2 separate regions of the Homo sapiens genome follow, and region 1 is linked to region 2. Evidence: fine-mapped expression QTL. A gene starts in region 2. The other region holds a variant in brackets. All regions are shown on one strand. Distances are from middle to middle. Region 1 overlaps C2CD4C (C2 calcium dependent domain containing 4C). Region 2 holds the start of PLPP2 (phospholipid phosphatase 2).

What was found. PIP is the estimated chance that this variant, and not a neighbour inherited with it, causes the effect.
Region 1: its variant is fine-mapped to the expression of PLPP2 in thyroid (GTEx, PIP above 0.99).

The regions. Positions count from the first base shown.
Region 1 is chr19:396,946-407,686 of GRCh38, forward strand. C2CD4C (C2 calcium dependent domain containing 4C) reads right to left here. Exons shown (of 2, transcript NM_001136263.2): 2 at 8,500-10,741. The coding sequence ends at 10,151. Among named protein-coding and RNA genes, the nearest start is that of C2CD4C, 6.8 kb to the right of the region's middle. RefSeq lists enhancers at 1,041-2,240, 9,185-10,064, 10,065-10,741. The variant C/T (reference allele first, on the strand shown) is at 4,485.
Region 2 is chr19:287,629-298,166 of GRCh38, forward strand. It overlaps PLPP2 (phospholipid phosphatase 2), which reads right to left and starts at 3,775. Exons shown (of 6, transcript NM_003712.4): 1 at 3,657-3,775; 2 at 392-543; 3 at 1-123. The coding sequence starts at 3,708. RefSeq lists enhancers at 1-498, 2,273-2,971, 2,428-2,941, 2,972-3,669, 6,369-7,218.

The DNA of each region.
Region 1 (10,741 bases), 110 kb after region 2:
GTGTAGCTCCCCAAACCATTCTTCTTATCTCAGAAAGAAATCCTCTGGATTTAGCTATATTTGACATTTCATGTAAATATAAGCAGACAATATGCGTCCTTTTGGCCTGAGTTTTTTCACTGAGTGTCATGTTTCAAGGCCGTGCTCCATTTTTTTTGTGATTGACTACTATTCCAGCCTACGAATATGCCGCACGGTGGTTCATCTCTCTCTGCCGATGGACATTTGGGCTGTTTCTACGTTTCGAATGATGTAAACGAGCTGTGTGTCTTCTTCAATAAATGCCCATTGAAGTCTTTTGCCTATTTTTTAATGGGGTTGTTGGTCATTTTGTTGCTGAGTTGTATGCATAGTTTATGTGTTCTGGATACTTGATCCTGATGAGCTCAGTGAACATTTATAAACAAACTGACCATAGCAGCCCCCACTCCAATGAAAACGCCACCTGTGACGGCCCCCAGAGGCCCCTCGTCCCTCCTGGTCCCTGCCCCGGGGGCCCCATCCTGACTTCCATTGCTGGCAGCGGGTAGGTTCATGTCGGCTGCTCTTGAATTCCTCCTGCCTGGGCTGCCCCGCGTGATCCACTGAGTGTGGCAGAGACGTGTCGTGCTGCTGCCTTCAGCAGCTCCACCTGCTTGCTGAGAAGGTTCCCGGTGCGTTTGGAAGGCAGAGGCTCCTGGGCTTGCAGGTAGGTGAACGCGCTGACAGAGAGGACTCGGCCGGCGCACCCCCTCACCCCCGTCCACCATCCTGAACACCTAGTCCTCACACATCCTGGAAGATTTGCAGCCTCAGTCTCTTCCAAATGTGTCTTACTCCTCTCTGCTCACCCTGGTGCCAGGCATCCGCCTTTGCCCATCCAGACCCAGCACCAGTGCCCTGCCCTCCCCTTGGCTTCTGTGCTGCCCGGCCATGCCCCTTCCTTCCAGACAGTTCAGGTCATCCTAAAACGTTCATCCAAGCCCTTTGCCCACAGGATAAAGTCCACACTCCTCTTACAGTCCTGTGACCCACAGGCCTCCTTGGAATTTTGGGGCTGAGTCCTTTCTGCTCTGGGGCTTCACAACCCTTTTGTCCTCTGGCCTCCTCTTCCAGGAAGTCCTCCAAGGGCAAGCCTTGCAGGACTCAGACTAGGCACCCACCCCAATGCTTGTCGATGAGAAAGCCTCAGTCAGGAAGGAACTCGGGCAGACCAGGGATGGTGCCCCTGCTCCATGACATCTGGGAGTCTGCTCTAAGACCAGGAGGCTGGGGCCCACCTGGGCTGCCAGCTGCACCTGCCTCCCTGGGCCACCTCCTTTTCATGGCCTGGGTTTGGAAGCTACCCACTGCCACTTTGTATTGCGCGGAGCAGTCTGGAGGGGACAGGCCCAGTGGCCACTGCTCCATGGGGTGAGTCTCAGCTCTGGAGAGCGCAGGGCCGGGAACATCATGTCAGGGACACCCTGGAGCTGTGGTATCCCCGACACGAGCATAAGGCACAGCAGCACTCAGTCCACATTTGCCAAAGGAAAGGGGAACAGCCAACACGCATGACCCCTCACCGCGTGCAGACGACGCGTGACCCCTCACCGCGTGCAGACGACACGTGTGACCCTCACCGCGTGCAGACGACACGTGTGACCCTCACCGCGTGCAGACGACACGTGAGACCCTCACCGCGTGCAGACGACACGTGAGACCCCTCACCATGTGCAGTCACCTTGCTAGGCAGCTTATGTGCCTTCTCTCGTTTCATCCTCAGGTTTGGGAAAATTATCCAGAACTTGGAAAGGGGTAAAAACATCACTGCCTGCTCTTTGGATCCTGGACCCTCGGCACGGTGGGCCTCAGAGCTGATCATTCCCTGGGGTGGGGCCGTCCTGGGCACTGCTGGGTGCTGAGCAGTGTCCCTGGCCTCCGCCCACTCCACACCAGGAGCTCCCCTAGTCGTGACAACCACAGAAGCCCCAGACGTTGCCCCGTGTCCCCGAGGGGCCGAATCACCCAGAGGATCAGTTGTATTCCAGAGCCTCGACCAGCCCGGCCACCCGGGGGTCACTTTGTGGACGCTTCCCTCCACTCTTGCCAGTGTCCTGGCTCTGGGGTTGGACGCTGCTTGGGATTGACAAATGCGGATGAGTTTTGTCCCTGAGCGGCAGGTGCCTCCTTCCTCCTGCTGCGTATAAAACTCAGTCCAGTCCTGCCGTTCCTTAGTAAACACTCGGACGCACCTTTGACCTACAGTGGCCCGTGGTCTGAATGAGGTTTATGCGTGAGTGCTTTGAAAGCTCAATGTTGCCATCACCTGAAGCCTAGAGGGCAGTGTGCACTGGGCACCTCACTTACACAGGAGGAAACTGAGGCTCAGAGAGGGGGAGGGGCTGGCAGTGTGGGAGCTGCAGTCCTTGATCTGAGCTGTCCCCGTGACTTTGGGAGATGAGGAAGGAGCATTCTGTGGCTTGGCTGGGGGAGCCCAGGTGGGAGGGGAGGGTGGGGACACAGTGGCTGGTGGGCGGGGGGGTGCCTCTGAGCCGCCTGGGCCACAGGCAAAGGGGTTAGGGAGGTGAGAGGGGAGCTTGGGGGCAAGGGTCATGTGTCTCCACGGCCGGGCAGGTGCACACTCCCAGGGAGGCCACGAGGACTCTGTGGCCCGGGGATTGGAGTGAACCACGCTGAAAGGTCAGAGGGCAGTGTCCCAACAACAGTGCCCCCGTTCCAGCCCCAACGGCAGCCCAGGGGTTCCCAGGCCCACCCTCACTCTTGCAGGGGTCCCCAGGCCCACCCTCACTCTTCCAGGGTTCCCAGGCCCACCCTCACTCTTCCAGGGTTCCCAGGCCCACTCTCACTCTTCCAGGGTTCCCAGGCCCACCCTCACTCTTCCAGGGGTCCCCAGGCCCACCCTCACTCTTCCAGGGGTTCCCAGGCCCACCCTCACTCTTGCAGGGGTTCCCAGGCCCACCCTCACTCTTCCAGGGGTCCCCAGGCCCACCCTCACTCTTCCAGGGGTCCCCAGGCCCACCCTCACTCTTCCAGGGGTCCCCAGGCCCACCCTCACTCTTCCAGGGTTCCCAGGCCCACCCTCACTCTTCCAGGGTTCCCAGGCCCACCCTCACTCTTCCAGGGTTCCCAGGCCCACCCTCACTCTTCCAGGGTTCCCAGGCCCACCCTCACTCTTCCAGGGTTCCCAGGCCCACCCTCACTCTTCCAGGGTTCCCAGGCCCACCCTCACTCTTCCAGGGGTCCCCAGGCCCACCCTCACTCTTCCAGGGGTTCCCAGGCCCACCCTCACTCTTGCAGGGGTTCCCAGGCCCACCCTCACTCTTCCAGGGGTCCCCAGGCCCACCCTCACTCTTCCAGGGGTCCCCAGGCCCACCCTCACTCTTCCAGGGGTCCCCAGGCCCACCCTCACTCTTCCAGGGTTCCCAGGCCCACCCTCACTCTTCCAGGGTTCCCAGGCCCACCCTCACTCTTCCAGGGGTCCCCAGGCCCACCCTCACTCTTCCAGGGGTTCCCAGGCCCACCCTCACTCTTGCAGGGGTTCCCAGGCCCACCCTCACTCTTCCAGGGGTCCCCAGGCCCACCCTCACTCTTCCAGGGGTCCCCAGGCCCACCCTCACTCTTCCAGGGGTCCCCAGGCCCACCCTCACTCTTCCAGGGTTCCCAGGCCCACCCTCACTCTTCCAGGGTTCCCAGGCCCACCCTCACTCTTCCAGGGTTCCCAGGCCCACCCTCACTCTTGCAGGGGTTCCCAGGCCCACCCTCACTCTTGCAGGGGTTCCCAGGCCCACCCTCACTCTTCCAGGGTTCCCAGGCCCACCCTCACTCTTCCAGGGGTCCCCAGGCCCACCCTCACTCTTCCAGGGGTCCCCAGGCCCACCCTCACTCTTCCAGCGGTTCCCAGGCCCACCCTCACTCTTCCAGGGTTCCCAGGCCCACCCTCACTCTTCCAGGGTTCCCAGGCCCACCCTCACTCTTCCAGGGGTCCCCAGGCCCACCCTCACTCTTCCAGGGGTTCCCAGGCTCACCCTCACTCTTCCAGGGGTTCCCAGGCTCACCCTCACGCTTGATGATTTGCGAGGACGCACGGAACTCCCAGCAAGCTGTCCTCGTCACAGGTAGGGTTTGTCACAGTGCCGGGGTGCAGGTGCCGTGGGCTGGGGAAGAGCACATGAGGCAGCGTCCCGGAGAAGCCCCGTGGTCCTGTCCGGGGAAGCCGGGAACTGCTCACTCACAGGGCGCACGGACCACCAGGAAAGGGCACGGCAGCCTAGGCGCCCAGAGCTCTGCGAGGGATCCCTCGTGGGGGCTTGATTGACTGATTGCTTGCCACGGGGTTGCCCTCGAACTCCAAGGGTGTCTGACGCTGTGAGACCCAAGGCGCTCCCAAGTCCCACGGTTGGTCTTGCTGGTGTGACCCTCCCTACCCCAGACCAAGACGCTCCCCTCAGGCAGGGCAGAAATCACCTCCCAAAGCCAAGGCAAAGCCCAGACCTCACCCCGCA[C/T]GAGAGGATTCCTCACCCCACGGGGGAAGGTGCGGGTCTCATCCGTGGCACCGCAGCAGGGCTCAGCCGGTGACCAGGACTGGGTGCCACGGGTGCTGGGTCCGTGCCCACTCCAGCCCCACCAGCAGGCAGGGAGGGTACAGGGTGCTGCAGAGGAAACCGAGTCACAGAGAACGGAGGGACTTGTCAGGATTCTGACCCATGGCTGGCAGAGCACAGCTCCCTGGGGCCCTCTCTGCCAGATGGCAGGGGCCGGCCATGCAAGCAGGTGTCCAGTCCCACCCAGGAAGGGCAGCGTGGGTCCAGCCCTGGTCCGAATTCCTGTCCTGTCAGCTGGGAGGTGTGCGCAGGCCCCTTTGCCTTCTGTGCCTCGGTGTTTCCATCTGTGGATGGCAGTAGGCAGCGTCTTGCTGAGGATTCAGCGGGTCCTCCCGCCCACCCACCCACGATGCGCTTAATCAACAGGCCCTGCCCTGCGTGTGACCCTGGAGAGAGGCTCTGGGACCACGTCACTGTACAGTAGGGTAAACTGAGGCTCAGGCGCCGGCCCGCGGGAATGGCCCGCCCTCGTGGGAGGAGCATGTGTGCGGGTCGGCGTCCGCCTCCTCCTTTTTATTGAAGTCATTTTTCTCCTCCTGTCAGCGGAACTGGCCGTGGGCAGCCCCTCCCTCCCACCCCCAGGAGCTGAGAAGAAAACAAAAGCTTAATCGAATCCGGCACTGGGGCGGTGGGTGCCGCAGAGAGAGGCCGAGGGAGCCCCCGCCTGGGTGGGTCTGAGGCCGCCTGTAATTATGGCCCTGATGTGATTATATTAATTATCGTCGCTATTTTGTGCCGGCTTCCGCCCGGCGAGCCTGTGGATTGAGCTCTACTGCACACAAGCCGCCAGGGCTCATCACAGACAGAGCCTTCGGCCTCGGGAGCCTGAGACCCAGAGAAGCCACGCACTGCCCCGGGCCACACCCCACGTGGAAGGTGGGGCTTGAAACTCACCCTGCGGCTCCCCACACACGTCAGGGTTAGAGGTTCAAGGCCCCAGAGAGGACAGGCCGCAAGGCAGGGGCCCTGGGAAGGTGTTACTCCTCCTCCTCGGATGGGAGAGACCCACTGGATCAGTGTTCTGTCACCTTAAAAAATGAATCAGCCGGACGTGGTGGCTGACGCCTGTAATCCCAGCACTTTGGGAGGCCGAGGCAGGCGTATCACCTGAGGTCAGGAATTTGAGACGAGCCTGGCCAACTTGGTGAAACCCCGTCTCTACTAAAAATACAAAAAACTAGCTGGGTGTGGTGGCGGGCGCCTGTAATCTCAGCTATTTGGGAGGCTGGGGCAGGAGAATCGCTTGAACCCTGGAAGAAGAGGCTACAGTGAGCCGAGACTGCACCTCTGTACTCCAGCCTGGGCGACACAGCAAGACTCCGTCTCCAAAAAACAAACAAACAAAACAAAACAAAAAAACTGAAACAAGCCGGCTTGAGCAAACAAGGCACTTTACCGGCCCACCCTCTGAGCTGAAATGGTGCGCAGTTATGGACTTCAGGCATAGCTGGATCCAGGTGTCCGCAATGTCTCCAGGCTTCTGACTCTTCATCTGTTGTTCCCTATGATGGCTCCCCTCTGAAGAAGGGGCATCTTTTTGTAATTTGCACCAAACGGGGTGCCCCCCGCTTGTGGTGCCCATGGCCTTCCTGAGGGTCGGGAGACTCAGGATGGCCGCCAGTCTGAAAGGAGAGACTGCTGGCAGGTGTGCCTGCCTCCTTCACCGCACAGCACCCACTGGGGCCGAGCGCTCTGTGGCGCCAGGGATGCTGGAGGTGCAAACAGTAGATTCGTTCTGCTCAGGATCAACATCACAAGGCAGCAAACGGCCACAGCCAGGAGGGAACAAGGGCATCTGACTCCCCCGGGGTGGGGGCTGACCTGAAGGGCAGTGGGCCAAGACCTGAGGCAGGGCGAGACACCACGCAGGCGCAGAATCCCTGGATGACGCCCACTTGGAAGTGGAGGGGGGAGGGCATGGGCAGCTGCAGCTCCCAGACACCAGCACACACAAACGCACACACAAGTGCACACCAGCAGCGACACAGGCACACACAAGCGCACACAGGGTCACACATGCATACACGGCTCACGTGCTTACACGTGCACACGCCAGCACACAGGCAGCTATACTCGAGTGCCTGCAGGCGCTCACCTGGCACTGTCACATACGCCCAACAGATGAGCACGGTAACGGCACACGCAGTCACACTGCACACACATGCGGAAGCACATGGCGACGTGTGTGCACCTACCTGGCACGCACACGCACACACCCGTGCAGCCTAGCGATGAGTGGCTGGGGCTGAAGAGGCTACAAGGCGCCCGTAGCCCTGTCAACCCGTCCCAGGCCCTGACTGGGGCTCACCAGGCCGCGGTCAGGAGGCCGGGCTACGCTGAACCCCAATTCCCAAAAGCTCCTGGTGGATTTGAGATGGCAGAGACATCTGGACCCCATGGGCAGCAGGAGAGACAGAGCAGCCCAGCCTGGGCTGAGAGCACAGGGACGGGTCCTGCCCCGAGGGGTGTGAGGGGGGGACGGGGTCCTGCCCTGAGGGGTGTGGGGGGGACGGGGTCCTGCCCTGAGGGGTGTGGGGGGGACGGGGTCCTGCCCCGAGGGGTCTGAGGGGGGGACGGGGTCCTGCCCTGAGGGGTGTGGGGGGGACGGGGTCCTGCCCTGAGGGGTGTGGGGGGGACGGGGTCCTGCCCTGAGGGGTGTGGGGGGGGGACGGGGTCCTGCCCTGAGGGGTGTGGGGGGGACGGGGTCCTGCCCTGAGGGGTGTGGGGGGGACGGGTCCTGTCCTGAGGGGTCTGAGGGGGGGACGGGGTCCTGCCCTGAGGGGGTGTGGGGGGGACGGGGTCCTGCCCTGAGGGGTGTGGGGGGGGGACGGGGTCCTGCCCTGAGGGGTCTGAGGGGGGGACGGGGTCCTGCCCTGAGGGGTGTGGGGGGGACGGGGTCCTGCCCTGAGGGGTGTGGGGGGGGGACGGGGTCCTGCCCTGAGGGGTGTGGGGGGGGCACGGGGTCCTGCCCTGAGGGGTGTGGGGGGGACGGGGTCCTGCCCTGAGGGGTGTGGGGGGGACGGGGTCCTGCCCTGAGGGGTGTGGGGGGGACGGGGTCCTGCCCTGAGGGGTCTGAGGGGGAGACGGGTCCTGCCCTGAGGGGTGTGGAGGGGGGATGGGGTCCTGCCCTGAGGGGTCTGAGGGGGGGACGGGTCCTGCCCCGAGGGGTGTGGAGGGGGGAACGGGGTCCTGCCCTGAGGGGTGTGGGGGGAACGGGGTCCTGCCCTGAGGGGTGTGGAGGGGGGATGGGGTCCTGCCCTGAGGGGTGTGGAGGGGGGACGGGGTCCTGCCCTGAGGGGTGTGAGGGGGGGACGGGGTCCTGCCCTGAGGGGTGTGAGGGGGGGACGGGGTCCTGTCCCGAGGGGTGTGGGGGGGGGACGGGGTCCTGCCCTGAGGGGTGTGGGGGGAACGGGGTCCTGCCCTGAGGGGTGTGGGGGGAACGGGGTCCTGCCCTGAGGGGTGTGGAGGGGGGATGGGGTCCTGCCCTGAGGGGTGTGAGGGGAACGGGGTCCTGCCCTGAGGGGTGTGGGGGGAACGGGGTCCTGCCCTGAGGGGTGTGAGGGGGATACGGGGCTGTGTCTAGAGGGGGTCTGTGGAGACAGGGTCCTGTCTGAAGGTTCTGAGGGGAGGCGGGACCCACCCTGTAGGGACCGTGTGGGGTCCGAGTCCTGTTTCCTGACATCCATGTAGTCAAGAGCTGGAACCGTGAAGCAGAACCCAGACCTGCCGCTCCAAGGGAGGTGGTTTATCAGGGGCTGGGCTCCTGCCCCCGCCTGCCTCCACCCGGGGCAGGAGAATGCGGAGGGCAGTGGAAAGGACCTTGCCAATCTGGAATCCTCTTCTCCTTCCTCCCTGGAGTTCACCGCAGAACTCTCTCGTTATTAAACAGCCAGGGAAGCCAACCTCCACCCCCGTATTCCCGAAACACCTTTATTGCACTATAAACAGCATTTATAAACAAACACAGCTGGGGAGTGTCTTAAAGATTTACCCACAGTCAACCTCAGACACTAAGATATCAAAGAGTGCAGGGGGGCTACTAAACGGGGGACCCCAGGGAGAACAGGGCCTGGGAGGGGTGAGCATCAGAGAAGGCGGGGAGCGCCGGCGTCTCTCTCCATGCAGGGCACCCTCCCCGCCTCCCCGGCCTGAGGAGCCTCCGCCCTGGGTGCCCTGGCTTCCGGGAGAGAGCGGAGCCCTGCAACACCAGGCTCAGAAGGGGCCTGCACTCTCCCTCTGGAGGGCTCACAGGTGTGTCCCACCGGACGTGCAGCAGGGGCCCAGCTGCTCCTCCAGTCCTGGGAAGCAGCTCCTCCACCCTCCCCTGGACAAGAGGAACAATGTGTGGCAAACGGGCTGACAAGGGACGTCCCTGGGTACCACAGATGTGCCCTGGTTCCTCCGTGCCCACCAGCAGCCGGGAGAGGCGAAGGCACTGGCCTGGCCTGGCCCCTGCTTTGAGTCTTATCATTTCTGCATCATTCTGAGCTGGAAACCTCCCCAAAATCATTCAAGGACCCACATAACCACACAATGGAAGCCTTGCAGCCACCTAACAGCAGGAAAGGCCATAGCCAGGTCCCCCCAGCTGCCTCCTGGGCTCCGACCCACCCACCGTAGCCACAGCCTATTTACACACGTGGCGTCAAAGCCACGGCCGTCAATCACTGCGTGTCGCTCCCAGCTGCAGACGCTGGACAAAAGGGCGACGGGGTGGCAGCCCCCAGCGAGGACGGATGGGCCATAGGGCTGCTCTCTGGGCATCTCTGAGCAAGACCCTCCGGCGCCACAGCAGAAATGGCCAGACGGGCCTGTACCCAAAAAGCCAGCGGCGACAGTGTTGGAGGAAAACAGGCCAGGAGAGCCGTCTCCTCCCCGCGGACCTCTGCCAAGACCTCCTCTGCTCCGACTGTGGCAGCGGCTGCTCCCTCCGCGCCCACCCTCGTCAGGGCACCCTCGCCTGGCCCCACTCCCCACCGGAGCCTGGGAAGCTGGGGTCTCCCAGAGCCAAGCCTGACCCCTGGGAGGGGGCGTCCCGGGCAGAGCCTGGGCCTGGTGTGGCCGCGAGGCCCTGCTCTCCGCGGGGTGGGAACTGGATGGCGGCAGGCTGTGGGGGAGGAAGACACACGTGCAGTGAAGGAGACTGTGGGCTCCAAGACTTGTCACCTCCCTGTCCACGGCCCCGCCCTGGCCACATGCACGGATTCCTGAACCCCTGAGAACCTCCTTCTAGAACTCTGCGTGAAAGGCGCGAGGCAGTGTGGAGGGGCAAAGGGGGACCCTCTGCCCCGCGAAGTGGCCCCTTCTCTTCCCCCGAGGCCCCTCTCCTCCTCCTCCTCCTCCTCCAAAGGAGAAATTAATTCATGAAAAATAATACTCCAGTCAGCATCGGGTGACCCAGGAAACCCTGCGTCAGCTACAGCATCAGCGCCCAGCCCAGCCTGAGTGTGAGCCCCTCCCCGGCCAGCCCCAGCCCAAGCCAGCGGACCCGCCCGCCAGCACCCGGTGTGGAGGAGAGACCGGGGTCTGCCCTCTGCACCCGAGCGGACAGCGAGCAGGTCCCCGCTCTACAGGAAGGGGAGCAGGGAGGTCAGGGGCAGCTCCTTCTCCCCGAGCAGCGTGTCCCGCTTGAGGCTGCTGCCCTTGTTCACCACCTTGATCCTGAGGGCCAGTTTCCGGACGCTGGCGGGCCCCAGGCCGTCGAAGAAGAAATCCTCGTTGAAGACGGGGCGGCGGCTGTTCTTCACGATGGTGCTGCGCTGCTTCTGCAGCTTGCCCGGCACCAGGCACAGGCCCACGCAGCAGTTGATGCTGCGGGCGTCGCACAGGCGGTCGTAGAGGCCCTCGGCGGCCAGCAGGTGCACCCGCAGGCGGGCCTGGCCGGCCTCGTACTCGGCCAGCAGCCGCACGCTGCCCCGAGGGCCCACGTGGACCGTGTGCTCCCCACGCGCCTGGCCCGACTCGGGGCCAGGTTCCGGGGGTGCCCGGCGGGTCAGGCGGCGCCGGCTCCCGGGGCTGGCGTCCGGGGTGCTGTCGTCCGCAGACAGGGAGCCGTGGCGGCCCACGGAGTGCCGGAGCTGGCTCACCTTGGCCTGGCTGTCCTGGGCGAAACCTTTGAGCAGAGACACGGAGCGGGACAGCAGAGGGGACCCGAAGGG
Region 2 (10,538 bases):
GCTCACGGCAGCCCCAAACAGGAAGGTCCCCAGCACCTTGTATACAGCAGCCACGTAGTTGTTGAAGTCCGAGCGAGAATAGAGCCGGTCTGTGTACACCAGGTAGGCTTCCCCGGCCGAGACCTGCAAGAGCAGCCGCAGGAACCAGTGGGGGTCTCGGTCGGCCCAGGGGCCCTCACTCCTCCGCACGGGCCTCCCCAAGGCTGCTGGAGAGCTGGGGACTCTGAAGGGGGCCCTATTACCCACAGGTACCACTCAGGGCAAGGCTGTGTCCCCCGGCCCCACACAGACCTCCAGGGCAGGGCTGTGCCACCCCCCCATCAGGCCCCCAGGGTAAAGCTGGCCCCACCCCATCCCCCTACCCAGTCCCTCTGAGCCCCTCCTGCCTTACAAGGATGACGGTGGCCGTGATGGTGACCCCAGCCATGAGCCCGTGGGTGATGGTATCTGGACGGTAGGGGTACCGGATGGAGTCATCCCCGCAGTAAAATCCTCGCTTGTACGGGGCGTTCACCAGCGTCAGGATAGCGAAGGGCAGGGAGGCTGGTGGGGAAGAAAAGCCTGGGAGCTGTGAGGTTCTCTCACCAGCTGGGCCTTGGGGCCCCACACACCTGCCTTGGCCTGGAGGCCTCCCACCTCTACTCTCACCAGACAGCAAGGAAGAGCTTTTTTCACAGCCCAAATAACACTCCCTTTCGCATCCCCTCAGACAAACACAAACTCCTCAGGCGCTCTGCCCCTCACATCCTGGCAGCCTCCTTTCTGCTCCTTGAACTAACTCAGCAAACACCCACCTTTGCACAGCCACTTCTCTCTGCCCAAAATATCTTTTTTTTTTAAATTTTTAAAAGTAGAGACAGGGGTCTCATGTTGACCAGGCTGGTCACAAACTCCTGGGCTGGAGCGATCCTCCAGCATCAGCCTCCCAAAGTGCTGAGATTACAGGTGTGAGCCAACGTGCCAGGCCCCAAAGTATCTCTAATTTATGTGCGGGGCCCCAAAGTAGCTCTGAGTAACCTCCACTCTCATCTCCCCTGCTGACTGTCCATGCCAGCATCCCTCTCACAGAAGGAAAGGTCTGCTCTTTTTCCCTCTTCCTTATGCAAACCTCATGTGGAATTTGGCAGTCACGTGTGGGACACTGGAATTGATTTCCCCCCATCCACCCACCGGCACCAGGAGGGGCCTACCGTATTCAGGGCAGAGTCCCTGGAGCCTGCTCAGGGCCTGGCCAGGGCAGATGTTTAATAAACATCGGTTAAAATAAGGCAGGACTTCTTTTAACCTAAGAGCAGGCCAGAGAAGTCAGGAAGAAGCCAAGGAAGGGCACAGCTGAGACACCTTCGCTCACGCACTTGCCCCTTCATCGACCAGCCACGTGGTGACCAGGACAGACCCAGCCCTGGCCTCAGGGATCAAAGACACATTCAGGAGCCACTTATGGAAGGTGCTGCCATGGCACTGGGGCTCCTGGGGCCCTGCTGAGCTGAGGGTGGCCAGGGAAGCAGGAGTCATCTACGGAGAACGGGGCAGAGGGCAGGCGCACAACAAAAGCCCGGGTCGGCTAGCCCAGAGACAAACCAAGGCAGGGCATCCTTTGGCCCAGCAGGGCAAGTACAAAAGGGTGTGGCTTTTCTAAGTTCTGAATGTCAGCGGAGGGGCAGGGAGCCCCACACTCCTCCCGACATGCTAACTCCAAGGGCCCTAGGACACCGTACACCTTCCATGCTGGCTAAGTCTGGGGAAATAATCTGGTGAAGAAAACAGAGGCCTGCCTCACCGAGCAAGAAAGGTGAGGGAATGCAGAACAGAATGGGCAGGCCCGGCGTGGTGGCTCAGCACTTTGGGAGGCCGAGGCGGGCAGATCACGAGGTCAGGAGATCGAGACCATCCTGGCTAACACGGTGAAACCCCAACTCTACTAAAAATACAAAAATTATCTGGGTGTGGCGGTGTCCCAGCTCCTCGGGAGGCTGAGGCAGGAGAATCGTTTGAACTCAGGAGGCAGAGGTTGCAGTGAGCCGAGATTGCACCACTGCACACCAGCCTGGCGACAGGGCGAGACTCTGTCTCAAGAAAGAAAAAAAAAGGGCAGCGCCAGGGCCTGGAGGCAGGGCAGGACGGCGGAGAGGGCGGGATGTAAGAACCTGCCTTCTGCTCCCACACAGGAGGGGCTGGAGCTGCTGTGAAGGGAGAGGCCTTGGAGGAGGCTCCTGCAGTTGCCGGCCGGGTGGAAAGTCAGGGTTACGAGATGCCCAGAAGGGAGTGCAGCCCGACCACAGCTCTTATCGGGCGGAGGCTCACACAGGTTAGCCTCCGTTTCCGACCTCCCTGCCCCAGCAACTCCAACTAGAGACGCAGGCACCCCCATAACGACAGGCGCCGGGCTTCCCTCGGCCTGGAAAGCTCTCCCTGGGGTCCCCAAAACAGACACCTTCTCTTCATTTAGCCCCCGGGAGCCCTCCCGCCCTCACACTGCCCTCATGCCAGCATCTGGAACCTCAGTGTTGACTGAACTGTGGTGTGCTCAAGCTTCCAGCATAGAGGTGCACTCGGCCTGGCCACCACCCCTGGCACACAGCAGCAACAGCCAACCCCATCTCGGCTGTACCTCCCGCTGCTGTGTGACCTCCGGCAGGTGACTCAGCACCTCCCTCACAGGCTGTTGTAAGGGAAATGTTTGTTATTTGCATGTTGCTTAGTTCCTGGCATACAGAAAGTGCCACCTAAATGTTTACATAAATAACACCATAGGTGCTCAGGAAATGGTACCACGGGCTGGCAGACACCCACAGGGACTTCTTGCTGTCACCTGGCCCACCCTAAAAAAGGGTCTCCTTCCGGAGGTAAGAGGACTTGGCCTCTGCTGTGAGATGGCAGAGAAGCAGGAAACACGTTGGGGAGGAGGGCACCCCCCAGAGATAGAATTCCAGGGCCATTGTCTGTGCAGCCACAGAGCAAACACTCGGCCTTTGTTCCCGGGACCCTGCGGGAGGGGGGCCTCGGGATGCCCATTCCGCCAGTGTGGCCCGCAAACCCGCCGGACAGGTTTGGTTCTCCTGGCCTCCCGGCCCCCCGCCACCCCGTTCACCCGAAGCCTGGGACCCAGCCTTCATCCCCAGTGTCTCCCCCGCCCGAGCCAGCAGGGCGGCTGGGCCTCCCCGCACGTGCACGGGTTCGAATCCCGCCGACGCACCGGGTGCCAGGACCGAGGGTCAGCCCTCTCCGCGCGCAGCGGGAGCGCCCACCCCAGGGGCGGAGGCGCGGACGTCCTGCCGGGGTAACCCGCGGCCGCCCCCACCTCCCGGGCCCGCGTGACTCACCTCCCAGGCCAGGCGGGGCGGGATGGAGGCGCGCGCGCGGCCCCTCCGCACAGACTTCCTGCTGCCGGGGCGGGGGATGCTGGCCCCGGCTCCCCGGGCCTCTCGCGACCCCCATCCCCCTGGGCCTGGGACGCGGGGACCCCCGAGCCTGGGAGGGCGCGCGCAGTGCGGGGCGCGGAGGGAGGTCTGGTCCTCACGCGAGGTCCCCGCCTCCAGGGTCCTCGGAGGGACGAGGGCGCGCAGCCTCCGCGTTCCCCTGCAAACTTGCGCGCAGCCGGGGGCGTGTCCGTCCCGGGAGGGTCCCCCCAACACCCGGGTCCCCAAGGCTCTTACCGACCAGTAAGCACAGCACGTCGAGCAGCACGAAGACCCACCTCCGCTGCATGGTCCCCGCGACCCCCGACGCCGGTCCCAGCGCGTCCCGTCGCGTCCCGGCCCGGCCGCGGAGTCACGTGGCGCGGAGCCCGCCCCGCGCGGAGAGGAGGGGAGGGGCGGGAAGGGGAGGAGGGGAGGGGCGGGGAGGGCACGAGGGGAGAGGTGAGGAGGGGAGGGGAGGGGAGGAGGGAGGGTTAGGGGCGGGGAGGGGAGGAGGGAGGGGGAGGGGAGGAGGGGAGGGCTAGGGGCGGGGAGGGGAGGGGGGAGGGGGAGGGAAGGGAAGAAGGGGGGGAGGGGAGGAGGGAGGGGGGACGGCAGCGGCGGGCAGGGGAGCAGCGGGGGGGGCGGGGCGCGGCGGACCCGGGACCGCGCGGACTCTGCCCCCGCCTGGCCGCGGCGCCCAAAAGAGCGGGTGGGGCGAGCGTGCGGGCGCCACGGGGACCTCGTCCGCCCGGAGTCCCGGCCCTGACCCGGGCTGTGCGGGTCTCCGAGCGGCGTGAGGTCCTCAGAGGCTGGAGGTTCCCCGCGGGTCGGGCCGGCGGAGCCCCGGGCGGGGACGTGGAGAAGGAGGACGAGCAGCGGCGGGACCGGCCCCGCGGGACGGTTCCCGACTTTCCTCCTCAGGGAGTGGCAGCCGCGCCGTGTGCGCCTGGAAACTCCGACAGCAGGAGGCACCTTAAAGTGGAAGGGGCGACGTGGCTTCATTTCAGGAGTTTCTTTTCTCCTAATACTCAAAATCCTGGCGCGTCCTTGGACCCCTGGCACGTTAGAAGCTCGAGTTCCTCGGCACCCACCTTGCGACGGCGTAGGGTGTCCAGGCGCAGCCCTGTGCCCAGGCACCGTTCCTATCAGCGCACTTGCTGTCCCATTTCACAGAAGAGCACGGGGGCGCCAGGAGCTGGGAACCCCATGAAATGGCGCCGGGGTCTGTGCCCCCACCAGGTCGTGGGGAGCCCTGAGCTGAGGGTGCCTGGGGATTGAGGGCACCTGAGCCAGGGAAACCCAGGCCCAAGGGACCCACACTGGGTCCTTTCGGCTGGGACCATCCGGGAGGCCTCAGGAGTGTCAGACCCACGTTTCCGGAGTCCAGCCTTGACCTCTGCCACTCACGGTCACTTAAATGGGAAGTGGCAGGCCTGGGGTCAGAAACAAGGCTGCTGGGCCCCAGATCCGCTGCCACCCTGACCCTCCTCTAAAACCCGTTCAGCACCACCATCAGCCCCCTGCCCCAGCAACACCAAAACAGGGTGCGTCTCAGCAACTGGACTTCAACTGGGAGCTCCTCGACCCTGCTTCCCGGATGGTCAGACACCTGCACGTGGGGCAGGGGGGCATCATGAGGGAACTCCAAGGGCAAGGGGCTCTTGGGAGACAGCAAAGGCACCCAGAGTGGTGCTGGGTGGGAAGACGGTGCAAGCTGACCTGTGGCCCTCCAAGGGCAGGGTTGAGGTGCTCCCTTGCTGCACTCACGGTGGGGTGGGGGGGCTCTAGCTCCCGTCGGAATTAGGATTGTGAGGGTTCTGGTGCCTAGCATCAATGCTACATAAATGTAGGGTTCAGCGTCACTACTGCGCTTTCCCCCACACTTCACCCTGTCTGCAAATGAGTGACCACTGCTGTCAGTGTAGTCTTGACAGCCAACGCACATTTTCTCCTAAGATGGAGAGGGTGCAACATCTACTGGAGTCAAGGAAAGGCGGTGTTCTTCATTGAGCACCTACTGTGTGCTGGGGAGCAAGGGAGAGGTCACTTGGAGGGGCCTGCCAAAGTGGGAGCGGGGGGAAGACAGTGGGGGCTGTGGGATGGGGCCAAGCCAAGAGGGAGAGACCCAGGAGAGGGGTGGAGGTAGACCTGGGAGGATAGAGGGTGGAGGTGAGGCTGCAGGCTGTTCCCCCTTCCATCCTTCCCCTTGGGTCAGGATTTGGGTTAGCCCTTAAAATCCCTGGGCAGGATAAGGATTAAAATCTGGTGGGGAAAGCAAGAATTAGGATTAGGGTCAGGATTGGGGTCGTCTCCTACATATGCTGACTGCAGCCCACCACACTTCAAGGAACTTCTTGTCACGGCTTTCATAGCTGGATCTGCTGCTGCCCCCAGCTGCCTGGTCCTCCCTTCCAGGAAGAACCTGAGGCCAGGGCAGCTCCCAGCAGGGACAGAGCCTGGCCTGGAGGCCAGGCCTCAGTGGCTTTCTCCTTCACCTGCAAATAGCAGAGCTGGAAGCGGGTGGTGGTACATGTACCCAGGCTGGGTCCCCTAGAGACAAGCAACCCCTGAGGGCCAGGTCGCCACTCCCAGGCAAGCAAGCTCACGGGTTCAGCAACTGCAGCTCCCGCCTCTTGCCCAGCACTGGCTCTGCCACCTTGGTGCCTCATCGCAACCTGGATGGCTCCGGGCCTGTTTCCAAATGGACTCTATGGAGACTAAGACACCTGTGAAGTGGGCAGAAGGGGGCCTGGCACACAGTAGGTGCCACCTAAGTGCAGCCAGCCACTATACCTGCCGTTGCTTTCTCTGCTTCTCTGGGACTTGAGAGGTGAAGTACCTTGCCCAGAGTCAAAACGGGAGTTGTCTCCCAGGTTCCTGGCACGGGGCTCTTGGAGTCGAACGAGTGCCCGTCAGTGGGTTTGACGTGCAGGCAGTGGGCAGGGAAGGCTGAGGGGGTGGATGGTTTGGAAAGACATCTAAGGTATCCCTCAGTCTCTGTCTGCATAAAGGCGGCAAGACAGTAGCTACCACCTGGGATTGTAGAGAAGATTAAATAGTTTGTGAAATGCTTGACCCAGGGCCAAACATTAGGAAACATCATTTGAGGGTTAATTGAACAAAATACAGTGTGGGTAGGTATCACGTGTTTGCTGGGTCAAGATGTAGAAGGTACTTCTTCCTGGGGTCAAGATTTAAAAGGGTTGGAAACCGCTGCCTTCAAATTCACAATCCAGGACCCACGAATTCAAAATTCCCCTCGGACTTTGCAATCCTTGGAGTGCCTCTTAATTTAGTGTAACCTTACAGTCAGTCAGGGACAGGGTAACCCTCCGGGTTTCAGCACCGCGAGTCTGCTGTGCTCTGTCTGTGAGGAGGTCTTCACTGGGTCACAGCAAAGAAAAACACACAGCAGTAGTGCTGGACGTGGTCGCCAGAGCCCCTCGCGCAGACAAGCCGGGACGCGGCCCCCCTGCCAGAGCCCCTCGTGCAGACAACCCGGAACGCACAGCCCCTCCCACCATCTCAGTCTGTGCGTTCGTTCACTGTCCCCGTCTCCTCCCACGAGCTCCAGGAAAGTGGGAGCTGGCACACAGTGGGTGCGCAAGCCGTGCTTACTGGGATGCCCAGAGCCTGAGGTCACCAGGGAGCTGACAGCTGCAGGGAGCTCTCCCTGGGTCACAGCAAGGCAAGACACACAAGCAACAGCGGAGGGCAACAGTGCGTTCTCAAAGGGAGAGCTGGTTTCCGCCTGCTTCTCGTACAAAACGAGGGGCAGAGATGGCAGGGGCCACCCCGCGAAACACTCGATTAAATCCCCGTTCACAAACCTTCCTGATGCCTGGCAGCCCTATCCCTGCCCCCGAAACCAGCATCTGGTGAAGGCAAGGAGAGGCACCTGGAAGACCTCAAATCTTTGCAGGTCTGCAAAGCCACTGAGCACCCACAGACCCCAAGGACCTGGTTCCGACTCAAGGAAGAACAAGGACGGTGGTGGCGGAGGGGCTCCAGAGAACTCGTAATGCCTCTGGTGAGGCCACCGCCGTCCTGCATCTCTTGATGTGACTGGTGACAGCCCACCAGGGCGGGGAACCGGTTCACCTCCCAAGTGCTCACCGGGGGCCGCGCTTTCGACTCTCCCTGCACAGGCCGTGGGTCGTGGCTCCGGGTGAGTGGAAACATTTGCCCCGCAGCGACCACCGCCCCTCCCTCCCCGACCTCGAGCCACAGGACCAGGGGACGGGGCTGGGCTGCGCTCTGGGCCCCGCGATGCCTCCGGGAGGCACGGCCGCCCTCTGCTGGACACGCCGAGGAGGCGCTCCACGCCAGGGTCTCAACATCCTCCTGAGAACAGCCCAGCAATGGGGCAAATAAACATCAAGGACCCCCTAGCTGAGTCCTGATACCTGTGAAACAAACAGGACACCCCGTTACATTTGAATCCCAGAAGAGCAACAAACCGGTTTTCAGTATGTGTCCCGAATACTGCATGGGACATACTTACACATTCGTTTATCTGTAATCCGAGCCCAACTGGGCATCCTGTATTTTATCTGGCCATCCTACCCAGGAACTACAAACCGAGAAAACAAGGACCATCAGGGAGAGAGAAACAGCTGGGTCAGGTCAGTGGGGGCCCAGACAGCGCCAGTCCAGGGCCCGGACATCTTCAACAAAGCCTGGGCCTGGGAGGCTGAGGCTCTGGGGACCGTGGCCGGTCCAGGACCATCAGTTCTGAGCGACTTTCTCCCTCCCCCACTTCCACCCCCACAGAAATTGTCTCAGGAGGGCTGATCTCCAGGCAGGCCCCTGGCTAACGCCTGCTTCCTGGCACGGCCATGGACTCTGTCCAGAACAGATTTCCATATTTGGTTAGCAGGTAGGAAGGAGGTCATCAAAGACCTTCACTTCACTGTAAAAGGAAAGCATTAAATAAACGAACACAAATGACTTTTATTTATGGCTGCCGAAAAGCTGAGGACAGTAAGTTTGTTCTAGAGAGGTATGAGCTCCCCTGAGGTTAGTCAAGACCAAGTCTGGTGGAGGCCTCATTAGTCCTAGGAGCCTGGTGTCAGACAAATCCGGAAGAGCCCCAAGGCACAGCGGGCCCTCCAGGTCCTCCTGCCTGGGTCTGGGCTGCAGGAAGGGCAGGATTCCACCACCCCACAGCTAACCCAGAGGCAAAGCTACGCTACACAAGCGGTGAGCAGGCCAGCCCAGCTCCTCGAGACCAGCACATCAACCCAGCTGCTGACAGGAGAGGGGCAAGCCCTTCCTGAGGCAAAACAGTATCCCCTCTGCTCCTTAACTGTCTTACCCACATCTAGTGCACCCTCAGAAACACAAGACACCATGGACAAGAACAGAATATTAGTCAACAATGGCATCCCAGGGTCTCTCCCAGCTCCAACCTATCTTAGATATTCCAGTCAAATCCAATCTCCCTAAAGCGTGACTCTACTTCAGCTAAAAAACACACTAAGGCTCCCCACTGCCTTCCCAGTTTCAGATTTCTTGGCCTAAGAGGGAAGTTGTTCCTGCACTGCCCTCCTGACCTCTGTGCTCACCCCACACAAATGGGACGCTCATGCCTCTGGGTGGCTGCGCCCGGCCTGCCCATGTGCTCCTCCCTCTTACTATTCCTTCTCCATGGGGCCTGCCCTGCTACCGAAGGGGAACAAGGGACCCTGGCCTGGCCAACCAGGAAACCCCTTCTGCTCGGCAGTTCCTGATTCAGTTATGGGCACGAGACCCAAGAACAAATTTTACCCAGGAGTTTTGTTAGAACAGTTGGGCAAGATACAGGCTTCCCACAGAAATCACAGATGTAAGGTTGTGTGCCTGGAGCTTCTGGTGCCATCTCAGTCGCCACAAAGGGCGCTGCCCCTGAGAAGAAGGTCAGTTCGGGCAGCAGAGAAATAGAAGCACCGAAACATCATAATGTGGATGGTGACTCCTGATTCCTGTTTCTGGAGGCCCTGGCATCCCCGGACTGGGTCTTAAGAGTATAACTTTCGGGCTGGGCACAGCGGCTCACGCCTGTCATCCCAGCACTTTGGGAGGCCGAGGAGGGCAGATCACAAGGTCAAGAGTTTGAGACCAGCCTGGCCAACATGGTGAAAGCCCGTCTCTACTAAGAATACAAAAATTAGCCGGGCGTGGCAGCGTGTGCGGTGTGGTGGTGTGCGCCTGTAATCCCAGCTACTCCGGAGGCTGAGGCAGGAGAATCACTTAAACCTGGGAGGCAGGGGTTGCAGTGAACTGAGATCACACCACTGCACTCCAGCCTGGGCAACAAAGCGAGACGCCGTCTCAAAAAAAAAAAGAAAAAGAAAAGGAAAAAAAGGGCTGGGCTCAGTGGCTCACGCCTGTAATCCCAGCACTTTGGGAGGCCGAGGCGGGTGGATCACCTGAGGTCAGGAGTTCAAGACCATCCTGGCAAACATGGTGAAACCTCGTCTCTACTAAAAATACAAAAACTAGCCGGGCATGGTGGTGGGTGCCTGTAGTCCCAGCTACTCGGGAGGCTGAGGCAGGACAATATCACTTGAACCTGGGAAGTGGCAGTTGCTGTGCGCCGAGTTCACGCCGCTGCACTCCAGCCTGGGCGATAGAGCGAGACCTCGTCTCAAAAAAAAAAAAAAAAAAAAAAAAGCAAAGCAATAGGATGACAATGATTTAAAGTAACTATTATTAAAAGGTTAAAGATTACAGAAGAAAAGATAGGGGCAAGGTGAGAAAATGGAGAATTTCAGCAGAAAAATTAAAAACACATAAGAGCACCTATTAAAATATACAATATGGGAAATAAAAATTTTGTGAAACAGACTAAATAGAAATCTGGAATATCAGAAAAGAGGATTGGTAGCATCAAAGACATGTCGATAGAAATTATTCAGAGGCCGGGCACACTGGCTCACGCCTGTAATCCCAGTACTTTGGGAGGCCGAGGCAGGTGGCTCACGAGGTCAGGAATTCAAGACCAGCCTGGCCAATATGGTGAAACCCCGTGTCTACTAAAAATAAAACAAAAATTAGCCGGGTGTGGTGGCGCACACCTATAATCCCAGCTACTGGGAAGGCTGAGGCAGGAGAATCGCTTGAACCCAGGAGATGGAGGTTGCAGTGAGCCGACAT